2 linked regions of the Homo sapiens genome follow. The protein of the gene in region 2 interacts with the protein of the main gene of each other region in a pairwise test. Each region holds a gene or a part of one and is shown on either strand. Other genes may lie near its edges. The genes, in order: SVIL and PAN3.

What was found.
Region 1: the proteins of PAN3 (region 2) and SVIL interact in a two-hybrid assay, tested with the Homo sapiens proteins (one study listed by BioGRID).

The regions. Positions count from the first base shown.
Region 1 is NC_000010.11:29,530,185-29,534,007, reverse strand, and holds part of SVIL (supervillin), read left to right. Parts: intron 1-549; coding exon 550-1,479; intron 1,480-1,835; coding exon 1,836-2,006; intron 2,007-2,719; coding exon 2,720-2,754; intron 2,755-3,339; coding exon 3,340-3,401; intron 3,402-3,823.
Region 2 is NC_000013.11:28,256,927-28,260,749, forward strand, and holds part of PAN3 (PAN2-PAN3 deadenylation complex subunit PAN3), read left to right. Parts: intron 1-3,520; coding exon 3,521-3,625; intron 3,626-3,823. UniProt on the Homo sapiens protein: Regulatory subunit of the poly(A)-nuclease (PAN) deadenylation complex, one of two cytoplasmic mRNA deadenylases involved in general and miRNA-mediated mRNA turnover.

The sequences.
Region 1 (3,823 bases), on a different chromosome or scaffold from region 2:
TTGAGTGCTTTAAAAGAGAGGTGATTGTTGTATCTTGAACTAAATAAAAAGCATAAATAATCGTGAGTGCTCTTACATTTTCAGACGACAATGAAATTACAGCGTTTGGTCAATAGGTGTCTGTATGCCAGGAACCTTCCCCCACAGTCCGTGTTCTGGGCGTGTACATGAGGAAAGCTTACTGATTCAAGGGACCAGGCTCATTATGCCCTAATGCATGCTGGTGGTGGATATTAACGCATTTTTCTGTGGCTTCTGGGTATTTATTTAGTCAGAAGGGACCCATTCTCCCCCAGGATAGCATCTGACCCCTGCCAGCTTTTACAGGGGTAGAGTTAGTTTTGCACCTCCTGGGCATACATATGCAAATTGGAAACTCAACTCAGGATCATCTGACAAGTAGTTGACATTAGACACCAAAATGCTTTTTCACAAGTTATTCTCTCTCAGGTCAGTTTCCATTCACTGGTAATCTGTGATCTACGCATGCTTTCCTCCTGTGAGGCCGTTACTGCACTTTGCAACTTAAATCCTTTTTCTTTCTTAAAGAGTTAAAGTTAGAGAAAAATTGGTGAAAGAGGAAAGTGCTCGAAACAGCCCTGAACTCGCCTCAGAGTCCGTAACTCAGAGGAGACACCAGCCAGCGCCAGTCCATTACGTGTCATTTCAGTCTGAGCACTCAGCCTTTGATAGGGTCCCCAGCAAGGCAGCAGGCTCTACACGACAGCCAATCCGTGGCTATGTCCAACCCGCAGATACCGGTCACACCGCCAAGCTAGTGACGCCAGAAACCCCAGAAAATGCATCTGAGTGTAGCTGGGTAGCATCAGCCACCCAGAATGTCCCCAAACCTCCCAGCTTGACGGTTCTAGAAGGTGACGGAAGGGATAGCCCAGTTCTCCATGTCTGCGAGTCAAAAGCAGAAGAAGAAGAAGGGGAAGGAGAAGGAGAAGAAAAAGAAGAAGATGTGTGCTTCACTGAAGCTCTCGAGCAAAGCAAGAAAACCCTACTGGCTTTGGAGGGTGATGGGCTAGTGAGAAGCCCAGAAGATCCCTCTAGAAATGAGGACTTTGGTAAGCCTGCTGTGAGCACAGTCACCTTAGAGCATCAGAAGGAACTGGAAAACGTGGCACAACCCCCTCAAGCTCCGCACCAGCCCACTGAGAGGACAGGCAGGAGCGAGATGGTTCTCTACATTCAAAGTGAGCCTGTGTCCCAAGACGCCAAACCAACTGGTCACAACAGGGAAGCCTCGAAAAAGCGCAAGGTCCGTACCCGCTCTCTGTCAGATTTCACAGGCCCCCCTCAGCTCCAGGCCTTGAAGTATAAGGACCCAGCTTCCAGGAGAGAGCTGGAGCTGCCCAGCTCCAAGACCGAAGGGCCTTATGGGGAGATCAGCATGCTGGACACAAAAGTCTCTGTCGCCCAGCTCCGAAGTGCGTTCCTGGCATCTGCCAACGCCTGCAGGAGACCTGAACTGTAGGTGATGCTTCACACGCCCTCCAGCTGTGTCACTTGCACGTCCCTGGCAGAATGATTCACTCCTCGACCTGTGTTGTGTTCTGCATTGAATCATATTAGCTTAGCTCACAAGTGCGTGCAGGGCGACTATGCGGAAAATGGCTCAAAAACTACCACTCTGCTTCTGCCTACTAATGGGGAACTAGTGGATTGGGTGTCTGGAATGTCTCCTTCCTTACGTGCATGGTAGAGGCATGAAGAGGGGTTTGGTGGTGTCTGTCCCTTGACTCACGGAGATGCATAATCCTTTGCCATCTTCTCTTTCTCTGTCTTCGTTTGCCTTCCTTATACTCTCTGCCCTTTGATTCTCAAAGCAAATCACGGGTGGAGAGGTCGGCTGAAGGACCTGGCTTGCCCACCGGTGTGGAACGGGAGAGAGGGTCCCGGAAACCAAGACGCTATTTTTCTCCTGGTGAAAGTAGAAAAACTTCCGAGAGATTTAGAACCCAACCTATAACTTCAGCAGAACGAAAGGAATCGGATAGGTAGGCATGCGTATGCGCAGTTTCCTCATCCAGGAACGTGGCAATGACACAGGAGTTTTACCACACTGACGGTCTTGACGCTATTTATATAGGATGTTGGCGATTCCATAATTGTTCCATCTAACCTATAAGCGTTATTTATTTGGCTTATTTAAAAGTCTTTTTAAAGAATATTAGCCTTTACAGCGGTATTATGATACATACACAATTTTACATTGCATTCAGATGATAAGAAGTAAGAAACATTATTTTTCTTTATTTAATGGTTTTAATGTTTTTTACCCCTTGTTAAATTAGACTCCAGATTGCATATTCACCAGATTTTACAGTGAAAATAACTGAGGAATTTTATATTCATTTTATAAATGTCCATCTACTTGTTGTATTTGAGTTTTATACTGAAGTGTCATATACTATTGCATAGAAATGGTAAGATTTGTCTGGAAAATTGTCATCAGTGGTGTTTAACAAGTTGTTCTTGTGCCTGGTCTCTCTCCACGGGGTGTGTACTTGGCTGGGATTGTGTGCACACACGCTCCACAGTGTTGCTTCACAACTGTATGTGTGTTTTCACAACTAGAATTGCTACCAGGAGGTTATTTCTTAAAAGAATTTAATTGCATTTTTATTTTTACTTTCAGTATGATGTTTTATTTCGATCTTCTGCTCCCACCTGCTAATGTATTATTGTTATTTGCTAATGTCTTTCCTAGGTGCACTTCACATTCAGAAACGCCAACTGTCGATGGCAAGTACCTGTTTCCCTTTTTTTTCTTCTTTATTATCTCATCTAGACTGGATTTAATAATAAGGTTTTTGGCTTTTTGAGAGAGTAAGATGATGGAGCATAACAGTGTCTCCCTTTGCTGCAGGTTTTCGTTCTGTGGATATGATAAAATCTAGTTGAAATTTTCAGACAAGCTTTCCCTTCTTTTTGAGAGCAGTTAGAGAATCATACAGTGACCAATGTAAAAACAACTAATTCAAACCAAAGGAGCAGGTTCTTCTTGTTGTTGCTGCTGCTACTATTTAAAACTAAAAGAAATTCCCCCCATAAAATATATTCATGAAATCTCGATCAGACAAACGTTAGAGTAGAAATCCCTGGACAGAGTTTGCTTTGGTTTGGCTGGGTTGAATTGCAAGGGAAATTAGTACCTTTTCACTGAGCAGAAAGAATGGGCTCCCTGCAAGGGGAAACTACCACCAATTATTATTTTAGTGCACCTATTGTTGTATTCAAAGATTTCCAGGTCAGCCCTGAAAGACTTTTTGGAGACCGAACTTAACCTTCTCTAATGATGTCCAGTTTTTAATTTGTGGCTTTTTGCAGATGAAGAAAAGGTGGATGAACGAGCCAAGCTGAGCGTCGCCGCCAAGAGGTTGCTTTTCAGGGTAAGCTGTGCTGACGTGCTTGAATAGAGATCCCTACTGGGTGCAGTAATCCCAGCTATTTGAGAGGCCAAGGCAGGAGAATCACTTGAGGCCAGGAGTTTGAGACCAGCCTGGGCAACACAGTGAGACCCCCATCTCAAAAAAAATAAAAATTGTAAGCCTTAGGGAGGGGGAATCTTGTGGACCCAGCCTACTTCATGCACCTCTGGGCATGCTAAGGCCCTCCTGCCTCTGGCCCACCTGTTGTTCTCTTCCTAATCTTTGGCTGGTTGTGGCCACCTCATGGACACAGCATGAGTGTACACTTCTGACAACAATACGAGGTGCTCATTAGTGACCCCTCCTGTAGGTCCTGTAGGAGAACAAAGTGAAGAATTTTTACTACCCCCATTTCCTTTCCTTGAATTTCTTTGTTATTTTTA
Region 2 (3,823 bases):
CTGGAAGCAAATCAATGATAAACCCTTATTTCAGATGAGGTAGTTATTTAACAGCTAGATCTGTGGATGGTGGAGTGACACATAATGATAAGGGGCCTGCAGTATGGCTCTTATGCTCAGGAGATAGAGTAGTCAGACCCAAGAGAGCCATGATTGTAGATGACGAAAGAGCTACCAAAGGACTGGCGATGAAGTGAGGGAAGAATCGTGAAACAAATGGGAAGAGGTGGCCCCAGAGGAAACATGAATATTAAGACCAAAAGAGGAAGAACATGGCCAGAAAGAAAGATTTCTTATCAGAGTCAATTAGTAATGTTCCAGGAGAGGGAGAAGGAACAGGAGTCAGGGGGCGAGAATGAATGGGGAAGGAGAGGGAAGGATTCCATGTTACGTAAATTGTACCTTTTTTAGCTTCATTACTTCATCCATATTCAAAAATTATTTTATTTACCCTAGAAAAATAAGTAGTAGATGAAGTGAGTGAGAAAGTCAGAGTCCACTAAAACAGGGGTCCTCAATCCTTGGACCAGAGACCAGTGTTAGGAACCAGGCCGCACAGCAGGAGGTGAGCAGTGGGCGAGTAAGTGAAGTTTCATCCGTATTTACACCCACTCCCCATTGCTCTCATTACCATCTGAGCTCCTCCTCCTGTCAGATCAGCAGAGGCATTAGATTCCATAGGAACATGAACCCTATTGTAAACTATAAATATATTGTAAAATACATATATATTTTATATATATGTAAAGTTATTAAATTATATAAATATATATTATATATATTATATATAATTAATATATATTATATATAAATTATATATAATATATAATTAATTATATATTATATATAAATTATATATAATATATAATTAATATATAAAATTATATAAATATATATATTTTTTGAGATGGATGTTCGCTATTTCACCCAGGCTGGAGGGCAGTGGTTCAGTCTTTGTTCACTGCAGCCTCCGCCTCCTGGGTTCAAGCATTCCTCTCACCTCAGCCTCTAGTAGCTGGGACTACAGACGCACACCACCATGCCTGGCTAACTTTTGTATCTTTAATAGAGATGAGGTTTCACCCAGTTGATCAGTTGGCCAGGCTGATCTCAAATTCTTGACCTCAAATGATCCGCCCACCTTGGCCTCTGAAGTGCCGGGATTACAGGCGTGAGCCACCATGCCCAGCCTAAACTATGCTATCTTATGTAAGGAAACCAACACAAGAAAAAAGAGATATTATTCTCCCTGCAGACACAGGCTAAAGGAAACCTTACAAGTATCACAAAACTGCTTCCTAGTTGAGATGCAGAGCAGAGCAGTCATGTTAGGGCAGCGCAAATCAGCTGAATTCGTTTTTAAAAGAGAAAAAAGGTTTCATTGTTTAAAATGAAAGAATGAAAAAATAGAAAAGATATTTAAAACTGAACTTTGATTTTGTATCATGGACCAGTGAAGGAGAGGCAGAGAAAAGAGTGATAAAGAGAACAAAGGGTGGTGGGATGAGTCCAGTTGAAAGAATGAAAGACAAGAAGCTGGAAGCTGATTTAGTAACTTTATTGTAGTTTGCTTGGAAGGTAAATGTATTATTGTATCCTTCTGTTCACTTAAACTGCTGACCTAGAGTAGGTTTGAATAACACTTTGTTTAGTTTGGCCACAAAATGCCTGTGAAAGGGGAAATTCTTTGGGCAGCCAGGGCAATATCACTTCCTTATCTCCCAGTACCCAAACACCTTTAGTTTCTCCTTCCTTCCTTCCAGTTGCTTTCAAAAAGTGGCGATGAACTGCTTGTATAGTTGCCATTTAGTATCCAAGGGGGATTGATTCCCGGACGCCCACAGATAGCAAAATTCCTGGGTGCTCAAGTCCCTGATATAGAATGACATAGTATTTGCATAGATCTTATACACATCCTCCTGTATACTTTAAATTATCTCTAGATTACTTATAATACCTAATGCAGTATAAGTGCTTTGTGAATAGTTGTTATAATGTATTTTTAATTTGTATTACTTCTCATTTGTTGTATTGTCATTTTTTTCCCCTGAATATTTCCTACCCATGGTTGGTCGAATCCTTGAATACAGAACCCAGGGATACAGAAGGCTGACTATGTGACATTTCTTCCAAAGAGCTACTTTTATCTTCTCAATGGAGCTTAAATTTTACTGTATCTGAAGAAATGTTTTCTTTCTCATTAGATTTTTTTTTTTTTTGAGACAGAGTCTTCCCCTGTCCCCCAGGCTGGAGTGCAGTGGCACGATCTCGGCTCACTGCAGCCTCCACTTCCCAGTTTCAAGCGATTCTCCTGCCTCAGTCTCCTGAGTAGCTGGGATTATAGGTGCCTGCCACCAAGCCTGGCTAATTTGTGTTTTTTTTGTTGTTTTTTTTTTTGAGATGGAGTCTCGGCTCTGTCACCCCAGCTGGAATGCGTTAGTTCAATCTTGGTGCACTGCAACCTCCACCTCCGGGTTCAAATGATTCTCCTGCCTCAACCTCCCGAGTAACTGGGAGTACAGGTGCATGCCACCACACCCGGCTAATTTTTTGTATTTTTAGTAGAGACAGGTTTCACCATGTTAGCCAGGATAATTTTTGTATTTTTAGTAGAGATGGAGTTTTACCATGTTGGCCAGGCTGGCTCATTAGATTTTTAATTGATTACTGAAATATTATGTTTATTTTTATTTTTTTAATTTTTTATTTTATTTATTTATTTATTTATTGAGACGGGGTTTCATTCTTGTTGCCTAGGCTGGAGTACAATGGCACAATCTCCACTCACCACAACCTCTGCCTCCCTGGTTCAAGTGATTCTCCTGCCTCAGCCTCCTGAGTAGCTGGGATTACAGGCTTGCGCCACCATGCCCCACTAATTTTGTATTTTCAGTAGAGACCAGGTTTCTCCATTTTGGTCAGGCTGGTCTCGAACTCCCAACCTCAGGTGATCTGCCCACCTCAGCCTCCCAGAGTGCTGGGATTACAGTTGTGAGCCACTGCGCCTGGCCGAAATATTATTTTTAATATGAATTCTTTCAGAAAGTATTCTCTAACAGCTATTCTCTGAGGTTTTTACTTCAATATTATTTAAAGATTTAAAATGTATTAAAATTTATTGCTATCATGTAAAGATTAAAATTTTATCAAAACAATAATAAAGCTTATTGATTATGAAAAATTAGTCAGGCTGGGTGTGGTGGCTCACACCTGTAATCCCAGCACTTTGGGAGGCCGAGGCAGGTGGATCACCTGAGGTCAGGAGTTCAAGACCAGCCTGGCCAACATGGTGAAACCCTGTCTCTACAAAAATACAAAAATTAGCTGGGCATGATGGTGGGTACCTGTAATCCCAGCTACGTGAGGCTGAGGCAGGAGAATCACTTGAACCCGGGAGGCAGAGCTTGTAGTGAGCCGAGATTGCGCCACTGAACTCCAGCCTGGGCAACAGAGCAAGACTCCATCTGAAAAAAAGAAAGAAAAATGAGTGATTACATTTACCCCCTTCCTACCTTTTTAGGTGTTTCCAAACTATCATATTTATCCTCCAACTGCACCTCACGTTGCTTATATGCAACCGAAAGCAAACGCACCTTCCTTCTTCATGGCTGATGAACTCCGACAGGTATGCTTTCAGAATTCATAGTAGGAATACTTAATGTCTCCTGTGCTTTAGTGAACAGGGGAAAGAACAGAGCTCTTTTCAAATCATATTATTTAATCAAATATGCTCTAGTAAAGCACATCGAATTTAGAAGTTTTAATTGGTATTTTTTTTAAGGAAACCTGTCTTTTAAAAAAATTTCAAATAAATTATGTGGCA